Linked DNA regions of Homo sapiens. Each later gene encodes a partner of the first gene's protein in a complex. Each region holds a gene or a part of one and is shown on either strand. Other genes may lie near its edges. The genes, in order: UPF3B and MAGOHB.

The links.
Region 2: UPF3B (region 1) and MAGOHB share a complex: the UniProt entries of both Homo sapiens proteins name them as parts of the mRNA splicing-dependent exon junction complex.

The regions. Positions count from the first base shown.
Region 1 is NC_000023.11:119,840,903-119,850,856, forward strand, and holds part of UPF3B (regulator of nonsense transcripts 3B), read right to left. Parts: intron 4,395-9,954; coding exon 4,296-4,394; intron 2,400-4,295; coding exon 2,289-2,399; intron 877-2,288; coding exon 833-876; intron 357-832; coding exon 174-356; intron 1-173. UniProt on the Homo sapiens protein: Involved in nonsense-mediated decay (NMD) of mRNAs containing premature stop codons by associating with the nuclear exon junction complex (EJC) and serving as link between the EJC core and NMD machinery.
Region 2 is NC_000012.12:10,609,329-10,619,746, reverse strand, and holds the start of MAGOHB (protein mago nashi homolog 2), read left to right. Parts: upstream 1-6,137; 5' UTR 6,138-6,214; coding exon 6,215-6,308; intron 6,309-6,768; exon of another isoform or gene 6,769-7,107; intron 7,108-9,066; coding exon 9,067-9,125; intron 9,126-9,805; coding exon 9,806-9,916; intron 9,917-10,363; exon of another isoform or gene 10,364-10,418. UniProt on the Homo sapiens protein: Required for pre-mRNA splicing as component of the spliceosome. Plays a redundant role with MAGOH in the exon junction complex and in the nonsense-mediated decay (NMD) pathway.

The DNA.
Region 1 (9,954 bases):
AATTTAAAAACTAATACTATTACAGGAAAGATTTTTATTGGATCACTTCCCCCCAAAAGAGAACAAAAACAAAACAAAAAATTCATTTACACCAACACAAGACGCATGCATATTTAAAGAAGTAGATACGTGCAATTTTTAGCAACATGCAGTCAGTTTCAACATTCTTATACCTTAATCTTTGGTTCATCCTTTAATTTGTCCCTTTCTGGAATTCTGTCTATCTTCTTTAGCTTTTCTATATCTTTCCTTTTTCGTTTCTCTTCTTCTTTCCATTTCCTCCTCTCTTCTTCTCTTTGTCTTTTTCTTTCTATTTCTCTCCTCCTCCTTTCTTCTCTCTTTTCTTCTCTCATTCTCTAGAAAGAAACATCAACACAAGCCTTCAAATAAAATAATCATCACCAAAACCCTAATAAATCCTGAAGTCATGGTAGGCCCCAACTGAATAATCTTTCCTTCCTACTTTCTACAAAGTGGCATTCTACCACCGTTATCCCCACTCCACCCAGAAAACGAAAGACAATGAAGACCAGAACCTGCTAATATTATTCTTCCACTGCTGCCTTACTATCTCTCCAGAGGCTTTCAGAATATCAAATGAGTGTCTCTGGGACAACCTAAGAACATTCCACGTTTGTAGAGTGAACTCCTGGTCCAACAACCAGAGTGAAGGAGCAGGCTAGAGAGTGAGACCAAGAAGGCAAATCCTTAAAGAGTAATGGTGGAAAAAGCAGCTATTTCTCCTCTAGAAACCCAATGCTCTTAAAATGTTTATAGAATGCAAAGCAAAGAAATTAAAGTATTGAGAGAACTATAAAGACAAAAGATTTACCTGCTTGTTTTTCAGGAAGCTCAAAAGTGGGGTTGTCTTTTTAGCTACATAAATGTAAACAGATTATTAATCATACTTATCAACCCCTAGAAACGATTCCATTTTCTGACATTCCCTGCCAACCACCCAAGGTGGGAAAACATGTACACCCCTTATGCAGAAAGATCACAATTGTAATATCAGAAAGAAGTTTTACAGCATTCGATTTCAACAATACGGGATTAAAATACCTTTTAAAAAGTAAAGAAATTCAAATTAAAACAACAAAATAATTTATTAAAAGAGTCATTCCCAACTGATGAGAATTAAGTACTTAGGACATTCTCTTGTTTTACTGATAGGAGTGTAAACTTGTTCAACTGGAAGAAGTTGGGGGGAAGGGGCTAAAAATATCTAATCCTTTTGACCCCATAATTCCACTTCTGGGAATTTATTCTAAGAAAGTTACCAGAAATAGGCTTGTACTATCCATCTATTAATAAAAGTCAAGTTTTGGAAGAATATTTTTCATTTTCAACATTCTGAATAAGCTATTGGCCTTACAGCCATCTTAAAACACATATTCCTGGCCGGGCACAGTGGCTCATGCCTGTAATCCCAGCACTTTCAGAGGCCAAGGCAGGCGGATCACTTGAGGTCAGGAGTTCGAGATCAGCCTGGCCAACATGGTGAAACCCCGGCTCTACTAAAAATACAAAATTGGCCGGGCGTGGTGGCGGACACCTGTACTTCCAGCTACTCGGGAGACTGCGGCAGAATCGCCTGAACCCAGGAGGCGGAAGTTGCAGTGAGCCGAGATTGCGACACTGCACTCCAGCCTGGGCGACAGAGCAAGACTCCATCTCTCACACACACACACACACACACACATACACACACACACACACACACACACAGAGAGAGAGCGAGCGAGCAAGCAAGCAAAAAAAACAAACAAACAAACAAAAAAACCCCACATATTCCTTAGGATAAATTCCTGAGTAGAAATCCTGGGTCAAAGATTATGCTCATGTTTAGAGCTACTGATACAGTAGTGACAGCCTATTACTGAGAACCAAGATCCAAGCTAGAATTCCTCAAGTAGTTTTCAATTTTGCAGTAACTAATTTCATTTTTTCGTATTTTCAAGTCAAAATTTTTTTAGGAATATGAACTTATTACTAGAAAATACCAATTGACCTTCAAAGGCTTACCACTGTCTAAACATTCCTTATCAGTCATCGAACTTTTTGTATTTATATTACATTTGTGTGAAACTAAATAGGTCAAAGAATTTTTCCCACTTTAATGGATTCTCATAATGCTGTGAGGCAGGTATTACCATCTGCAATTTACAGTAACAGTCTCAGAGAAACTAGTAACTTCCCTGAAGTCACACAGCTAGCAACTGATGGAGGTAGGAGACTTAGGTACTGTGATGAAAAGACTGTTGCCCTGATTCTTTTTGCCCACTTACCTATTAATTCTCTATTTTTTGCTTCTATTTCCTCTAGCAGTGTCTCTGGAGTAGATGTCATTTTCTCATTATCTGTGGCATAACTTTCCAAAAACTTTCTATATTCTGGATCTAAATAATCATTTGAGGAAACAGAAAATATAATAGACTTTAAACAAAAAAAGAAGACATTATCTACAATACTGATTTATCAAAGAAGATAATTTTTTACTTCGTGGAAGATTAAAAAAAACCAAACCATACCCACAAGGTAGACTATTTAGAGCTTAATTGGTCACTTGCTCTCAGGACTCCTATCACTGATACTCACTATAGGAATCTGGTATAACATGGGGTCAGGAAAAATGAGACGCCATGCATTATAACAGAACCACTAGGGGTATTACATAGTTTGCTTTTAAAAGTCACTGTCCTACTAAACTAAGTTAGGTGTTCCAAAAAGATAAATTAGAGAGAAGTCCTAGATGTGGCACTTGAGGTGATGGGAATTCCTGGAGTTCTCTCCTAGACCTCTAACATCAGAAAGGGTGACACATCTAAGCCATTATATTGCTTGTTTCTATGTGTCACTTGATCAAGTCTTCCAGATCTAAATCTGTAATAAAACCAGTATCACAGCTATGTGTTATTGAGTCCTTACCGTGTTTTCTTTATAAAATACCTGTAATAGTAACAAATGATGGAAATTAAACTAGATGATTCTAAAGTAACAATCTGATATAAAATATGGTCCTAGTCCTTATCCAACATAAAGAGTTGTGTAACAGCTATCTAACATAACATTACAGAGGTCTCAAAATCTGGAGCCAGTGTACCTTAAATGGCAATTATTTTGGTTTTTCAGTTCTTGTATTTCTTTCTTTCTTTCTTTTTTTTTGAGACGGAGTTTTGCTTTTGTTGTCCAGGCTGGAGTGCAATGGTGCGGTCTCAGCTCACTGCAACCTCCGCCTCCCGGGTTCAAGTGATTCTTCTGCCTCAGCTTCCCAAGCAGCTGGGATTACAGGTGCCCGCCACCATGCCTAGCTAATTTTTGTGTTTTTAGTAGAGATGGGGTGTCACCATGTTGGCCAGGCTGGTCTCGAACTCCTGACCTCAGCAACTCTGCCCGCCTTGGCCTCCCAAAGTGCTGGGATTATAGGAGTGAGCCACCGCGCCTGGCCTCAGTTCTTCTATTCCTGTTCAACCTAATACTATGTGTGTAGCTAATTGTATATCCAAAGACCAGAAAATAGGAGTGACAACTTCAGCTACTTTATACAAAGTTACCTGGGTATGGAAATTTTCCCATGACAGTTCAAACCTTCTTCTTTATAAATATAATGGAAACCAAAAGTCAAATAAATAATCATAAAAATGGTGAGGCCTCAAGAAGCACCTGTTAAACTTTGAAACCTGATTTTTTTCCACTATTTTCTTTTTCTTTTTTTTTTGAGATGGAGTTTCGCTCTTGTTGCCCAGGCTGGAGTGCAATGGTGTGATCTCAGCTCACTGCAACCTCCGCCTCCTGGGTTCAAGAGATTCTCCTGCCTCAGCCTCCCGAATAGCTGGGATTACAGGCATGCACCACCATACCCGGCTAATTTTATATTTTTAGTAGAGACAGGGTTTCTCCATGTTGGTCAGGCTGGTATCAAACTCCTGACCTCAGATGATCCGCCCGCCTTGGCCTCCCAAAGTACTGGGATTATAGGCGTGAGCCACCACGCCTGGCCTTTCCACTATCTTCTAATCAATAAACCTATGGTGATTTGTTACTCAATAGTCAACATTATATTGTTCAATGGTTGAAGAATGAAATGCCCTAGCCAAAGAGAGCAGAGATTCTGTGCAAGAAACTCTCTCTAGTCTAACAATTAAGCAAAGCTTCCATCGGCAAATAACATTTCTCACTTACTTTATTTTGTATATTTTCTAATTTAAAATTTTGGGGTCGAATTAACTCTCACAAAGATATTATTTTTAAAAACCCCACAGCAATAGCATTATATAATTAGAGCTATACTGTACCATCATCGATAGTCCCGACTTTGGTATCTCTTTTCTTAGTCTTCTTTTTTGCAGCTTTTTGAAAAGGTGCAAATTCTACTATAGCGGGATATTCCTGACCTGTTTAGAAAAAAAATACCACACTTGCTATAACAAAGAAAATGTCAAAAGTGGATATAAGGGAATCAACCCATTGCTTTCTATGACTCTTTTGATGGCAGTCATCTGAAGAGGGTCTCCCAAAGGCATAAAGCACACTGGCACAACCATAATCAACATACTACAAAAGGAGCCACAAATTCACACTGATAACATAGTGAAACAACACGGCATGAAAGTAAAATATTCATATAAATTCAACTTATAAAATGTGATATTTTAATGTGAAAAAGACCCTACAAACTATTTTTCATTTTAAAATGTTAGAAATCTCCAAAATAGGCAAATCTATAGAGACAGAACGTAGAGTAGTAGCTGCCTGGAGTTTGGGGTAGAAGTGGTGAGAAGAATGAGGAGTGACAACTAATGGGTGGGGTTTCTCTTAGGGGTGATGAACATGTTCTAAATTTAGATTGTGGTGATAGGCTCATAAGCCTATGAATATACTAAAATTCACTGAACTGTATACTTTAAAAGGGTGACTATTTCAGGCATGTGAATTATATCTCAATAAAGCTGTTATTTTTTAAAAGTGTAACTATTTGAGGTGATGTGTTATGTGAGGTGATGAATGTGTTAACTTGATTGTATATATTTCATAATGTATATATGTATACATTATGTATACATTTCATAATGTATATATGTATACAATATGTATACATTTCATAATGTATACATTTCATAATGTATACATATATAAAATTATCACGTTGGGCTGGGCACCGTGGCTTATGCCTATAATCCCAGCATTTTGGGAGGCCGAGATGAGAGGATCACCTGAGGTCAGAAGTTTGAGACCTGCCTGGCCAACATGGTGAAACACTGTCTCTACTAAAAATACAAAAATTAGCTGGGCGTGGTGGCACGTGCCTGCAATCCCAGCTACTCTGGAGGCTGAGGCATGAGAATCACTTGAACCCAGGAGGCAGAGATTGCAGTGAGCCGAGATCATGCCACTGCACTCCAGCCTGGGCGACAGAGTAAGACTCCGTCTCAAAAAAATAAATACATAAAAATAAAAATAAATAAAAATACAAAAATTAGCCAGGCGTGATAGTGCACGCCTGTAATCCCAGCTACTTGGGAGACTGAGGCAGGAGAATCACTTGAACCTGGGAGGCGGAGGTTGCAGTAAGCTGAGATTGTGCCACTGCACTCGAGCCTGGTAAAAAAAAAAAAAAAAAAAGAAAAAGAAAAAAGAAAAAACAATTATTACATAGTAAAATTTAAATATATATTATTTTATTTGTCAATTATAGCTCAATAAAGCTGGGGAAAAATCTGTTAACACTTAAAAAAAAATACACCAGGACACCAAAAGCACAGGCAACAAAAGTAAAAATACAGAGGGTAGATCTCATGTTAAGTGTTCTTACCACAATAAAACAAAAATATAAAGTATATCTCTTATTTAAAAAAAGTAAAAAATAGATAAATTGGACTACGTCAAAATTAGAAACTTCTATGCATCAAAAGACACAATCAACAGAGTGAAAAGGCAACCCATGGAATGGGAGAAATATTTGCAAATTATATTATCTGATAAGGGGTAATATCGAGAATATATAAAGAACTCCTATAACTCAACAACAAAAAACCAAATAACCCAATTTAAAAAATGGTCAAAAGACTTGAATAGACATTTCTTCAAAGATAATATACAAATGGCTAACAAGCATATGGAAATATGTTCCACATTACTAGTCATTAGGGAAATGCAAATCAAAACCACAATGAGGTATCATCTCACGCCTATTAGGAGGACTACTATCAAAAAGCAGAAAATAACAAGTGTTGGCAAAGATGTGGAGAAACTGGAACACTCATGTATTGGTGGGAATGTAAAATGATGCAGCTGCATGGAAAACAGTATGGCAGTTCCATAAAACATTAAAAATAGAATTATTGGGCCAGCCTGACTAACATGGTAAAACCCCATCTCTACTAAAAATACAAAAATTAGCTGGGTGTGGTGGTGGGCACCTGTAATCCCAGCTACTCAGGAGGCTGAGGCAGGAGAATTGCTTGAACCCAGGAGGTGGAGGTTGCAATGAGGGAAGATCGCGCCATTGTACTTACTCCAGCCTGGGCAATGAGGGCGAAATTCCATCTCAAAAAAACAAAACAAAACAAAAAAGAACTACCGGCGGGGCACAGTGGCTCACACCTGTAACCTCAGCACTTTGAGAGGCCGAGGTGGGCGCATCACTTGAGGTCAGGAGTTTGAGACCAGCCTGGCCAACATGGTGAAACTCCGTCTCTACCACAAACATAAAAAATTAGCAGGGTGTGGTGGCAGGTGTCTGTAATCCCAGATACTTGGGAGGCTGAGGCAGGAGAATTGCTTGCACCTGGGAGGTGGAGGTTGCAGTGAGCCAAGATCATGCCACTGCACTCCAGCCTGTGTGACAGAGACTCTGTCTCAAAATAAATAAATAATAAAATAAAAATAGAATTACCAAATGACTCCAGAAATTCCATTTCTCGGTATATATCCAAAAGCAGTGAGAACAAGGACTCGAATATGTGCACATCTGTGTTCATAACAATATTGTTCACAATAGCCAAGAGTGGAAGCAACTCGAATACCCCTTGACAGATGAATGGATACACAAAATGTGGTATATACATATACTGGAATATTAGTCTTAAAAATGAGGCTGGGGGCAGTGGCTCATGCCTGTAATTCCTAGCATTTTGGGAGGCTGAGGCAGGCATGTCACTTCAGGTCAGGAGTTTGAAACTAGCCTGGCCAACACAGTGAAACCCCATCTTTACCAAAAGTACAAAAAAATTAGCCAGCTGTGGTGGTGGGTACCTGTAATCCCAGCTACTTGGGAGGCTGAGGCTGGAGAATTGCTTGAACCCAGGAAGCGGAGGTTGCAGTGAGCTGAGATCGCGCCACTGCATTCCAGCCTGGGCAACAAAGTGAGACTCCATCTCAAAAAAAAAAAAAAAAAAAAAAAAGATGAAAATTCTGACACATGCTACGACATGGATACACCTTGAAGATATTATGCTAAATGAAATAAGCCAGACAGACACTGTATGTTTCCACCTATATGTGGTACCTACAGTAGTGAAACTCATACAGACACAAGGTATAATGGTGGTTGCCAGGGGCTGGAGGAAGGGAAATAAGGAGTTGTTTAATGGGTAAAGAGTTTCAGTTTTTCAAGATGAAAAAGTTCCCAAGATTGTTGCACAACAGTGTGAATATACCTTAATGCTACTGAACTGTACACTTAAAATGGTTAAGATGGTAAATTTTATGTTACGTGTATTTTTACAATTTTTAAAAATGCAAAAGGAATGAGGTAATGATATATGTTATATGTTACAACATGGATGGACCTTGAAAACATTGTGCTAGGTAAAAGAAGCCAGTCAGAAAAGACCACATATTGTATGATTACATTTATATGAAATGGAGGGAAATCATAGATACATAAAGTAGATTAGTGGTTGCCAGGGGCTGGAGGGAGAGAATGGGAGGTAACTACTAATAGATATGGGTTTCTTTTTGGAGGGATGAAAACATTCTGGAATTAGTACTGATGGTTGTACTACCTTGTGAATATACCAGAAACCACTGAATTGTACGCTTTAAGAGGATGAATTTTATTATAGGTGAGTTATATTTCAATACAAAAACCCCAAGTGACTAATGGGAAAAAAATTCACAAGCACCCTGTCACAGAATGTCAAAAACAAGGTATCCTATCCTTAAATCATTGGCATGTAGACATAAGCAGAAAAATAAAAATAAACAGAATTGACCAGAAGGCACTGCAAAGCAGTCATGGAGGAAAAATTATGTTGGGAATCCCAGTGAGTAGAGAATCAGATTAGCTTCAAAACTGTGATATATTAGGCCAGGCATGGTGGCTCACGCCTGTAATCCCAGCACTTTGGGAGGCTGAGGCGGGTGGATTGCTTGAGGCCAGGAGTTTGAGACCAGCCTGGCCAACATGGTGAAACCCCATCTCCTAAAATTACAAAAATTAGCTGGGCGTGGCGGCACACACCTGTAATCCCAGCTAAGTCGGCAGGCTGAGGAACGAGAATTGCTTGAACCCAGGAGGCGGAGGTTGTAATGAGCCAAGATTGTGCCACTGTACTCCAGCCTGGGCGACAGAGTTAAGACTCTGTCTCAAAAAAAAAAAGAGAGAGAGAGAGAAGAAAAAGAAAAAAAACAAAAATAAAAACCAAAAAACAAAACTGTGATATATTTGAGAAGGAATAGATAAACCAGACTGAAACAGAGGGAAATTGTGGAAGACAGGCTGAAGAAACAGAAGTGAGGCCAGAATATGGAGGACCCTGACTACCAGGCTAAGGAGTTTGGACTTTTTCCCCCAACTGTTAATTTAAATCATTATTTTCAAAAAGATTAATTTCATGGCAATATAATAGACTGAATTATACAAGAATGAAAAAAATGGAAAATCCTGTAAGTTTAGAGACAGTGGTTGTCTAGGCATTAAGTGATGAGGACATAAAGTGTGACTGTTTAAGGCTAGGTGAACAAGATATTAAAAAAAAACAATAAAATCCAGCCTGGGCAACATAAGCAGACCTTGTCTCTAAGATTTAAAAACAAAACAAAACAAACAAACAAACAAAAAACACAATGAGGAAAGGATAGTCTCTTTAATAAGTGGTGTTGAGCTGGGTATGGTGGCTCGCACCTGTAATCCCAGCACTTTGGGAGGCTGAGGTGGGGGGGGGGAAATCACTTGAGCCCAGGAGTTCAAGACCAGCCTGGGCAACGTAGTGAGACCCCATCTCTATAAAAAATTTAAAGAAAATTAGCCAGGCATGGTGACATACATCTGTAGTCCCAGCTACTCAGGAGGCTGAGGTGGGAGGATTGCTTGAGTCCAGGAATTCCAGGCTGCAGTGAGCTCTGATTGCGCCACAGCACTCCAGCCTGGGTGGAGACCCTATCTCAAAAGATAAACAATAAATTGACAAGATTCATAACTTACATGTAAGAGATTTTTAAAAAAGGAAAAAATTAAACACAACTCAGATTTCCAGGCTAAGTAACTAGAATCTAGTTAAATATCTACTGGAATAAAATAGTTGGAGTGGAAAAATAGCTGGCTTGGGGAGATTAATAAAAGTTGGACAAACAGTGGCAATCCTTCAATTTTTACTGGCATAGTCCCTGACAAAAATTTAATTTTTACCAACTTTGAAGTAATATTGAAAAAAACAAAACAAAACAAGAAGACACACTATTTACCTATAATTGCAAACCAAAAAGAAAAGTGGCAAATGGCAGCTTAGATATTCTCTGGCTAAATGTAGGTAGCAGATAATAGAGTGTTAAAGTAGAAATGTGTCTTCCCTATAGACTGGACCTTTCTGGATATAAAGTAAGAGATGTATCAAGTTTCTTTTTTTCGATTTTGAGACAGAGTCTCGCTCTGTCGCCAGGCTGGAGTGCAGTGGCGTGATCTCAGCTCACTGCAACCTCTGCCTCCCAGGTTCAAGCGATTCTTCTGCCTCA
Region 2 (10,418 bases), on another chromosome or scaffold:
AAAAGAGTTGAAGGGAAAGAAAATTTAAGGTTCTTCTTGCTCAGGATTACAGATATGGACCAACACCTCCTTCAAGAAAAGGTGGTAGGACACAAAGTTCTTCAGTCCTGAGCCCTACATGTGGGGTTGGAGGAGAACTATAACGGAAAAACCTCTGAGTTTCACCTTAGGTATAGATAAAAGAAAGATGGTCCCCTTTTATCTGATTCTGAGACAGGTAAATTCTGTTTGTTACTACGTTTAATTAGAAGGTGGAGGAGTCATTTCATGATTAAGAACATTCAACATGTATTGTTCATTAAGCTAGCTTCCTAGTTCCGATTAGACTAAGGAGACTAAGCCTAGAGAGTCAATGTTAGAACAGTGAAAAGAATTCTGTGTGTGTGTGTGTGTGTGTGCACAATAAATAGGAAATGTAGAAACCAAGCAAGAAGGCTTAGTAGCTCAGTCTTTAACAAGGGCTAGAAAAGAATGTAATCTGATATGGAAGGATAGCAGCTTCTAATTTTCAATCATCTGTTGATATACTGTGAAACTTATTTTATTAAATTAATATTTATTAAATGGAAATATGCTTTTCTGGTTTATAACTACTAAAAATATCATAGGGAGGATAAAAGTAAATAAGTGAAAGTTAATGCCAATAGAAAAATTCAAGAGATAATGTACAATGTCAGAAAAGGGATTCTTTATGTGTAAATGGGGATAATACCTATTTCACAAGGTTGTTCTGAGGATTGATACGTTTTGAGTATGTATTTGTACACTATCTGGCACATATGCGCTCAATAAACGTGTTTCTCCTTTTCTTTTGCCCTTCCTAACCCAGGACCTTTCATATATTTTTCATTTAAAATCTACTGTGACCAAGAAGAGAAACTCAGTCGCTAACACTGCAAGGCAGGACATGCCTAAAGATGATGATATGGCACAAGTAGTGATATTATACATGTGCAATGATGAAGTCATCATTTTTGTACGCTTTTGGATGATGATAGTGGACTCCTACTATTACAAAATATTGAAAACATCATCATGAGGGCAATTCTGTTGAACATGGTAGTCTGCAATTTTAAAAAACACTTTGGGTACCCTGGAAGGGACATCTAAGGCTGCCATAAGAAAAATGACTGGCAGCTAAAAATGTTGTAGAAGTTGGAATCCTGATGGAATCATAATGAGTCAGCTAAAGGAATAATGATTCTTGCCGCTGTAAGAATACCACAATGACTAGTCAGGATTTAAATGGGTAGCAAGTTGCAGTAGGGAGAAGGGCAGAAGAGTGGCTTCACACAAAATTACAAAGTCCTATGGAATCCCATTGTTGCCTCTCAGCTGTTCAGTTAAGTCAAAATTACAAATATTTACTTATTTATCTGATCACTGAAAAATATTGAGTGTTAAGGCTTGCTGTGCCAGACACTTGGCTAGGTGTAGGATAAAAGAAATAGGGAGCTTTTGATTACAGTCTAGAAGGTGAGACACATTATACATTTATTTGTGTGGGTATCTGTTAAGTGCGAAGTGTTAAGTGCTATAAAGAAAAAGCATAGGGTAGTAGAAGGGAGTTTAAAAGGAACACTTCCCTGAACAGAAATGGGCTATAAACTGAGACCTTAGGGATGGGTAAGTAACCCAGGCCGAATAAGAAGAGTCTCCCAGGAGGAGGACATGTGTGCGTGAAAATTCTGAGGCAAGGAACTGCAAGAAAGCATATGGGTTGCAGCACGGTGAGCTAAGGGAAAGTGGAACACAGTGAAATGGAAGGTTGCTTTGTTGTACTGTCATATTTCTTTTAGTAGGAGGGAAAGAAGCAGACAATTGATATTTAAGTTTTTTACCCCCAATTTTATTTGTTTTTCCGGCCCGGAAAACTGGATACAGTAATTTTTACTCTAAGAAAACTGGGTCTTTCTCTCACTTGGCCAGGCTTCTTCCAGAAGGAGGATGATATTTCTGGCATCATTGACCTTTCAGCCAAACTAGGTGTTTCCAAGCTAATGAATGAAAAAAAGAATCAAAATATTTATCATTTAATCGGGTTGACTCTAGATAGATTTTGTTGTATTGTTTTGATTGCCTTCTCTTCCAGTCTTGTTTTTCCAATCTATGCTTTATTGTTAAAAAAAAATTCCAACACTTAGGAACAACGCAAACACCCACCTAGATACAGTGTCTAAGGGAAACTTGGTAACGTCGTTTAAAATAGAATAGTCTGAACCAGTAGTTCTTAAATTATGCTTATGGAGCACACTATGTTTTTTTATGCCAGATTTAGGTATTCTGTTATTAAAATCAAATAATAGTAGTGGGTTTTTTTTTAGCATTTTAAAACAAAAAAAGTCAGTTAATTAAGATTTCTTAATCTTAACTCTGTTGCAATAATTTTTTTAAATTTTGCTTTAACACTCTTACTGAAATAAATAAGTAGCAAATACAGTGGAAGACTGGAAGATATCCTATTACCCTTAATTTAGCATACTGTGTTTACCCGTTTTGGGGAAAAGAGTTAGAGATTATGCTATGTGTTTGAAGCATATAATATTGTCATTTGCTGGAAAAAAATTTTAGATTGAACAATCGAATTAAATATATCATGTCATGGTAATCTAGAAGTAGCTCCAAGTTCTCGCCATATATGAACATATGTGATAACGAATGGTGTGGAAAGTTTGGTGTTTCTGCATGATCATGATTCTCTTACTTAAAAAGTTAATACCACTAAGTGGTAAAAAGACAGATAAGGCTAACGTCCACAGGGAAGTCTATTATGGAAAAGAGAAGAGCAAGGTGGGTGGATGAATTAAAAATTAAAATACTACCTCATTCTGAGTATTTTTTAAAATTTAAACCACATTATGCACTTATTCTTGACTTACTACTCTGATCCATTTATTAATAACTGAATGAGATAGCCCTGACATCTTTTCTTCTGTAAATACAAAATCAAATGAATCAGACGTTATTCATAAATTAAAAACATGAGACTATAATACCTAGTGCTTATCACAATAAACATGGAACATGTTTCTGAAAATTGGAAGTCAGAATGATTTGATCATTAAGCCCTAATTTCAGATGGAAATAAAACGTTTATTTCTTACCTACTTCACTTTGTGCTTTGAAATTTACCGCTGTGTTAGCAAAGGTGGAAACAGTATTTTGGCTTCACTTAAGCAGCTCAAATATTTATTTTCATAAGTAAACTGTGTTGATATCAGTAAGTACGTCCTAATTTGGAGCCTACAACAAGCAATTTGAAAATGTTCACAATTTTTTTTTTGCTATTTCTAGCCCAACTAAAAGTGTATGAAAAGATTCTAACTGTGCTGACCAACACAGTAGCTTCTAGCCACATGTGTTTATTTAAATGTTAATCTAAATTAATCACAATTAAGAATTCAGTTCGAAGTCACAGTAGTCACATTTCAAGGGCTCAGCAGCCATACAGAAGAACATTTCCACATCACTGTTGTGTACCATCCAAGAATACAACACAACGCAAATGCTTTATCACTTTGTAATTCTTGCTTCAATACAAAAGGTTCAAATTTTGGCTTAAAATATAGAGAGTTAAGTAAATATAGTTTCATATTTTATCTTACAAACAGGTAGGATTATAGTCTTGAACCCCTATGTCATTTTTGGAGATCAAGACAGTAACTGGCCCACTTAACAAAGATGTTAATACTTTGTGCATTCTGTAACCTCTATTTATATAGTTACACATTCTGGTATCCATAGTTCTATTTAGGTAAACATGAAGATGAACATTGGCACATGTGCCAAAAACCTGAAGGAGAGACATTAGGGAATCTAAGATATTGAATGAGGCTTTCCATATAATTCAACAAAATGGATTACAGCTGATATTTCCAGAGATACTACGGAATAGAGTGTTCAAATTTCTGTGAATTATTCTTGTGGTAAGTGTGGTGACCAACCCATCTCAGTTTGCCTGGGTGTTTCCAGGTATGGAAAGTCCCATTTCCCAGGAAACTCCACAGTCCTGGTCAAACTGGAACGGCTAGTCACCCTAGTGGTAAAACATGGTGCTTCCTGTTTCTTACGTACTTTCCAAAATGGTGGCCCATTGTAGGGACTGATTCATTTTTCTATATTAATAGTTATATAACTACTAATATGGACTCAAGGAAACGTGGCCCAATTTGCCTTTTTAGTCATTCTACTTGAACCTTATGCTCTAGCTATACCGAATTTCTTAGTGTTCCCCAAACATGAATTTTCACACCACTGTCTTTGCTCGGGTCATTTTCTGCCTGGAATGCTTTTTCATCCCACTGAACATACACAGAACTTACTTCTCAAGGTCCAATTCAAACACTTCCGTTGACAAGCCTTTTCCAATACTCTTTTTTCAAATTTCCCTACTCTGCAATAGAATGCTCTTGCTTCCTCTGCTGTACTACCGGCATGTTTTACACACTTTTTTTTTTTTAGACGAAGTTTCGCTCTTGTCACCCAGGCTGGAGTGCAACTGCGCGATCTCCGCCTCTCGGGTTCAAGCGATTCTCCTGCCTCAGCCTCCTGAGTAGCTAGGATTACAGGCACGTGCCACCAAACCTGGCTAATTTTTGTATTTTTAGTAAAGACAAGGTTTTGCCATGTTGGCCAGGCTGGTCTTGAACTCCTGACCTCGGGTGATTTGCCCCCTTTGGCCTCCCAAAGTGCTGGGATTACAGGCATGAGCCACTGCGCCCGGCCACATATAGGCTTTCTTTTCTTTTTCTTTTTTTTTTTTTTTTTTTTTTGAGACAGAGTTTCGCTCTTGTTGCCCAGGCTGGAATGCAGTGGCACGATCTCAGCTCACTGAAACCTCTGCCTCCAGGGTTCAAGCAATTCTCCTGCCTCAGCCTCCCGCGTATCTGGTATTACAGGCACGCGCCACCACGCCCAGCTAATTTTTTTGTATTTTTAATAGAGACGGGGTTTCACCATGCTGGCCAGGATGGCACATATATTCTTAATTATAGCAATTGCTCCCTTGTGCTGGTATTCGCCTTACGTGTTTGCTTTCTTTTCTAGACTACCAGATCAAATGGCTTATTTCTAGTTTCAAACTGTCACATAGGAAATGTTTGTTAAAACTAATGTTTTATAAAATTTAAAGCTTATTTTACATATTATCTCATTAGATCTCTCAAGAATTCTGTGAGCTTGGCAATGTAGATTGCTGTATATGCATTAGGCTGATGAACAAACAGGCTTAGAGATAGTCACTTGCCCGAGGTTAGTTAGCTGTTAAGTGTTGGGATTGAATCCCAGGTCTTCTCTCCACCACTTTCTACTAAAAATCACTGAAGGTTGTCAACCGACAGATAGGATTACTCTGTGTGTTGATAACAAAAGGGTGATCAATAATATCTGAAAAGGAAACTTTGTGTAAAAGTCTTTCCCTTACCTTAAAAACTACGCCACACTGGAGCATTCTTTCATTCCCCCAATTTAATTCTATCTGGCGAGAAACAATAATGGGCTAAACCATTATTGTATCGTAAGTCAAATTGCCAAAACTTCACAGGCTACTAAAAGTTAACCCTTATTGAATGAATTAAGAACCTTAGAAGTTCTGCTGTTAAAAAAAGCACGGTGACTGTCAGGGTTTTTCAGGTGTGGGGGGTGTGAGGGTTTTAAGAGTTGGATTCCTTTGACTTTGTCTCTATTATTATAGGCTTAGAGGTCCCGGGTAACTACCAATCGCTATCCAAAGGGAAAGCACCCTGTTAGAAATTAAGTAAGAAAAATAGTTTATATTCCCGGTCTGCCATTTCGATTCTAAGCTTTATCTTTATTTAGCTCACAGTTAAAGGGGGCATAGAGCCACACCCACCTCACAAACGCCGCAAGGATTGGGAGACCAGAAAAGTAAAAGTGACTTGCAAACCTTTAGCTCTAAGTCCATAAAAAAGACTATCATATGCTCACATTTCTAATCTTTGCTAGTATAATGTAATCTTTATTTTGAAAACAATGTGCCTCCATTCCTAGTAAAGCGAAAGTCACGGCGCTGCGACCCTCCCTTCAGCGCCTCCGGACTCTCACGCGATACTCGGCTTTCACGCTTTAGTCTAGGGCTGCACTGCAGGAGGAAGAGAAGCGCCTGTGGTGACGCACTTATTCCGCGCGATGACGTCACTGCAAGGCGCCGGGGGACACGTTGGCTGCGTTTTCGGCGGGCTTCCCGGGTACAAAAATGGCTGTGGCTAGCGATTTCTACCTGCGCTACTACGTAGGGCACAAGGGCAAGTTTGGGCACGAGTTTCTGGAGTTCGAATTTCGGCCGGACGGTGAGAAGAGGCCCACGGCACGCGGTGCTGGGAAAGGGGAGCGAGACCGAGAGGCCGGGTGGTGTGGAGGGTACAGGCGGCGGAGGCCACTGCTTCCCTCGAAGGAAATAGGAGCTTAAGAATAGAGGAGGCATAAGTTGGTTTTATAAATGAAAGAGAATTAATTGCAATAAATTAAAGCTAATCCTGTCACAAACTGAAAAGTTGAACCTACAGTAATCAGAATTCTGTAACAGTGCACCAGAAGGGACTCTAGATCGTCGCCCTGATTGAAAATGCTAGCACTTTTTTGAAAACACCCCCACCAGCGGGTGGTCCAGTGGATGAATAAAATCTTGTGGTGACCAGTACCTTTTTTTCATTTAGGCTGTGTGTTTTCTTTGAAGGGGAGGAGCCCAACGTGTTAACAAATGAGAATAATAATATGTTTTAGGTGTTTACGTGTAATTGTTCACCATAGGACGCATGAAGAGTACCAAGCAAGAGGGGAGAGGTAAAGTTCCACAGGAGGGAGTCAGGAAGATCTTCTTAGAGGACGGCACTCTTGAGATGAGTCTCGAAATGAGAGACTTGGCCTTTGAGAGAAAAAAACAGACTTCCAGAGCAGTATGAGCAGAGGATGAGGTGAAACTGCTACCCAAGTAGTGTGCAACAGTGTGTTTTCTGACAGCGCTATCCTTAGAGAATGTTACATTGATCTTGCCTACCTGCAACAAGAAAGTTCATTTGGATATATATTTTTTGGGTTTTTTTGAATGCACGTTTTGTGCTGGACAACAAGCAAATACAAAATTTTAAGGTACAGTAATGAGTAAGACAAATTTAACTAAAGCAGATTTGTCTTGGTGGGAGGCACAGACATTTAACTATAAAGCAGTATGCATATTAAGTCCTATAAGCAGGCTTTGGACAATGTTCTGTGAGAGCAAGAATAAAAAATTAGAGAAGGAACGTATATTAGGAAAGGAGAAGAGTATCAAGCATTTCAGGCAGAACTCACGTTAACTACAGTCCTGCAATTATTATTATTATTATTATTTTGAAACAAGGTCTCACTCTGTCACCCAGATCTGAGTGCAGTGGCACGATCTCAGCTCACTGCAACCTCCCCCTCCCTAGTGCAAGTGATCCCTCACCTCAGCCTGCCGAGGTGCTGGGAATACAGGCCCACGCCACCTCACCCAGCTAATTATGTTATGTTATGTTATGTTATGTTATGTTATGTTATGTTATGTTATGTTATGTTATTTTTTGTAGAGATGGGTTTCCCCATGTTGCCCAGGCTGGCTTCAAACCCCTGAGGTCAAGGGATCCACCAGCGTCAGCCACCCACAGTCCTGGGATTACAAGCATGAGCCACCGGGCCAGCCCTGCAATTATTTAGAAACCTTAATCACTGTATTTAACCTTACCGTCCCCATAAATTCAGCTAAATTTACCTGAATTCATCTATTCTTTATGTAGTATTATTTTCAGTTCCTCTGCCTGCGAACACCATCAAGCTTGTCCCTATCACTTTTAGCAGGTCACATGAATTAAGTACCTGAATATTATCAGGGAAGTTTTATGCTAGAACAGTGGTTCTAATCAATGTATCTGCCACTACACTGTTACACATACTTCCATTGGTGATATTGAGCCTCCCGAAGACGCGTTTCTTTTCTTTTTTTTTTTTTTTTTTTTTTTTTTTTGAGACAGAGTCTTGCTCTGTCGTCCAGGCTGCAGTGCAGTGGTGCGATCTCGGCTCACTGCAACCTCCGCCTCGTGGATTGAAGCGATTCTCCTGCCTCATCCTCCCGAGTAGCTGGGATTGCAGGCATGGGCCACCATGCCTGGCTATTTTTTCGTATTTTTAGTAGAGACGGGGTTTCTCCATGTTGGCCAGGCTGGTCTCTAACTGCTGACCTCAGGTGATCCACCCATCTCAGCCTCCCAAATTGCTGGGATTACAGGCATGAGCCACTGTGCCTGGTGCCAAGCCATCAAAGACTGTCATTTCTATCATTTTAGAGTACCTGTTGCACATTATAGCTGTGTCTGGGCAACTGACTAGCCATAAGGGGAAGCATACATCAGATAATACAGCAATCATGATGGATTAAAATTAAATATAAACTAGCTAACAAACTCATCAACTTTGATCCAGAAGCATCGTTTGTATGCTTCCTAGTCATAATTCTAAAATGTCTGCATTATAATTGCATGCATACATTTGAAGGAAAAAAATTTTTAAAAGAGAACATTTTGGTGTAGTGGGGAAAGCCTGAGTATTGAAAGAAAGTAGATCTAGATCTGAATCTTGTGTGACCCTGGTTAAGTTACTTAACTTTGTTTTCTCTCCTATGAATAGGTGAGAGAATAAAACCCGATTTTTGGGATTGTTTTACAGATTAGATTAAATGCTCTGGGTGAGGCACTTAGCACCGATACAGACATATAACAAACTTTAAAGGAATCTTAGTGCCTTTTGCAGATTCTCTTTCTAGTTCATGATGTAGCTTAAGAAAATAGGCCTTAAAAATGACCCAATATATATTGTAGGCATGGGCTGTTTAAATATTTGGCTAGCTTCAACTTCAGCAAACTTAACCAGCAAACATTTATTGTCTACATGTCTAGCAATGATCTTACACAAGGAGGGAGGAAATATTAATAAAAATAGTAGTATAAAATGGTCTTTACCTTCAAAATTGTATATGATGTTAATTTTTTTAGCAGTTTTTGCTATTATAAATTGATTTTTTTCCACTTCCCACAGGAAAGCTTAGATATGCCAACAACAGCAATTACAAAAATGATGTCATGATCAGAAAAGAGGTAAGTTCTATGTGAATGTCTTTTTTTTTTTTTTTTTTTTTTTTGCATTTAGCCCATTTTCTTCAAGTCTGTGTTGAATTTAAAAAAGTACATCTAAGGCTATATTGTAAAGAAGAAGGCAATTTATAGATTGAAAGAGTTTCCATTTAAATTAGATACAGTGTTTGCATCCATAGGAATGAGAAAGTTCAGAGAACTAACCTTGACGTGAACTACACTTGCATTTATTGATTTATTGATTTAGGGACAGAGTCTCGCTCTGTTACCCAAGCTGGAGTGCAGTGGCTTGATCTCAGCTCACTGCAACCTCTGCCTCCCAGGCTCAAGCGATTCTCCTGCCTCAGTATACTTGCATTTATTACAGTTCACCTTATAGATCTTGTGATGACACAAGTTAACCACTTGTGGGTATTTGGATCTCAGTGTTGCAAAGGCAGAATACAGTGTTTGAAAGACAGGTAATGATGAGAAGAGGGAAAAAATGTATGTGAAAGGAAAGGGCAAGAGATGAAGAAAAGCAGTGTAACAAGGATAAGTGATTCTGTCTCCTCTACTTTTGGAATCAATTAAATTTTTCTATATTCCTCTATTTGGATATTCAGGGTTTGTAACTCATTTCTTTCTGAGTTGAGGGGTGACATAGGTGGGCATTATCTCATTTTATTATGATTAATTTTTAGGCTTATGTGCACAAGAGTGTAATGGAAGAACTGAAGAGAATTATTGATGACAGTGAAATTACAAAAGAAGATGATGCTTTGTGGCCTCCCCCTGATAGGGTTGGCCGACAGGTTTGTATTTAGTGATTCTTTAAGTGTATAAATATTAAAAATTGATAATACTATTTTGTTTCCCGTTATTTATTTGGAATGAGTCTAAGTTGATTCTTTGGCTTTCTATTTAATAGGCACCTGGTAAATTCTCTTTAATTTTATCTCTTAGTTCTGTTTTTCTGTGCTACCTCCTAGTAGTGAAGGAGTCAGTGCATAGCTCTAAATTTAGACATCTTTCTCTGTAGTCACCCCAGCCAACGTTAGGATGTTTTCACAATGCAGTGTTATGAATAATTTCTGTTGTGTGTTAATCACTTTTATTAAGAATATGACTATGTAAAATTTATTTTTGCCAAATCATAACTTCTAAAATTCTTACTTGCATCCCTATACCCCAGAGAGAAACTTGATTGGTGGTTTCTTTGTTAAAACTGATGATTGCATTTCCCTCTCATATTCCTTCAGAATAAATGATGTTTCTCAGGCTTCTGAAGAACTCTGAAGGCCTAATTTCACTCTG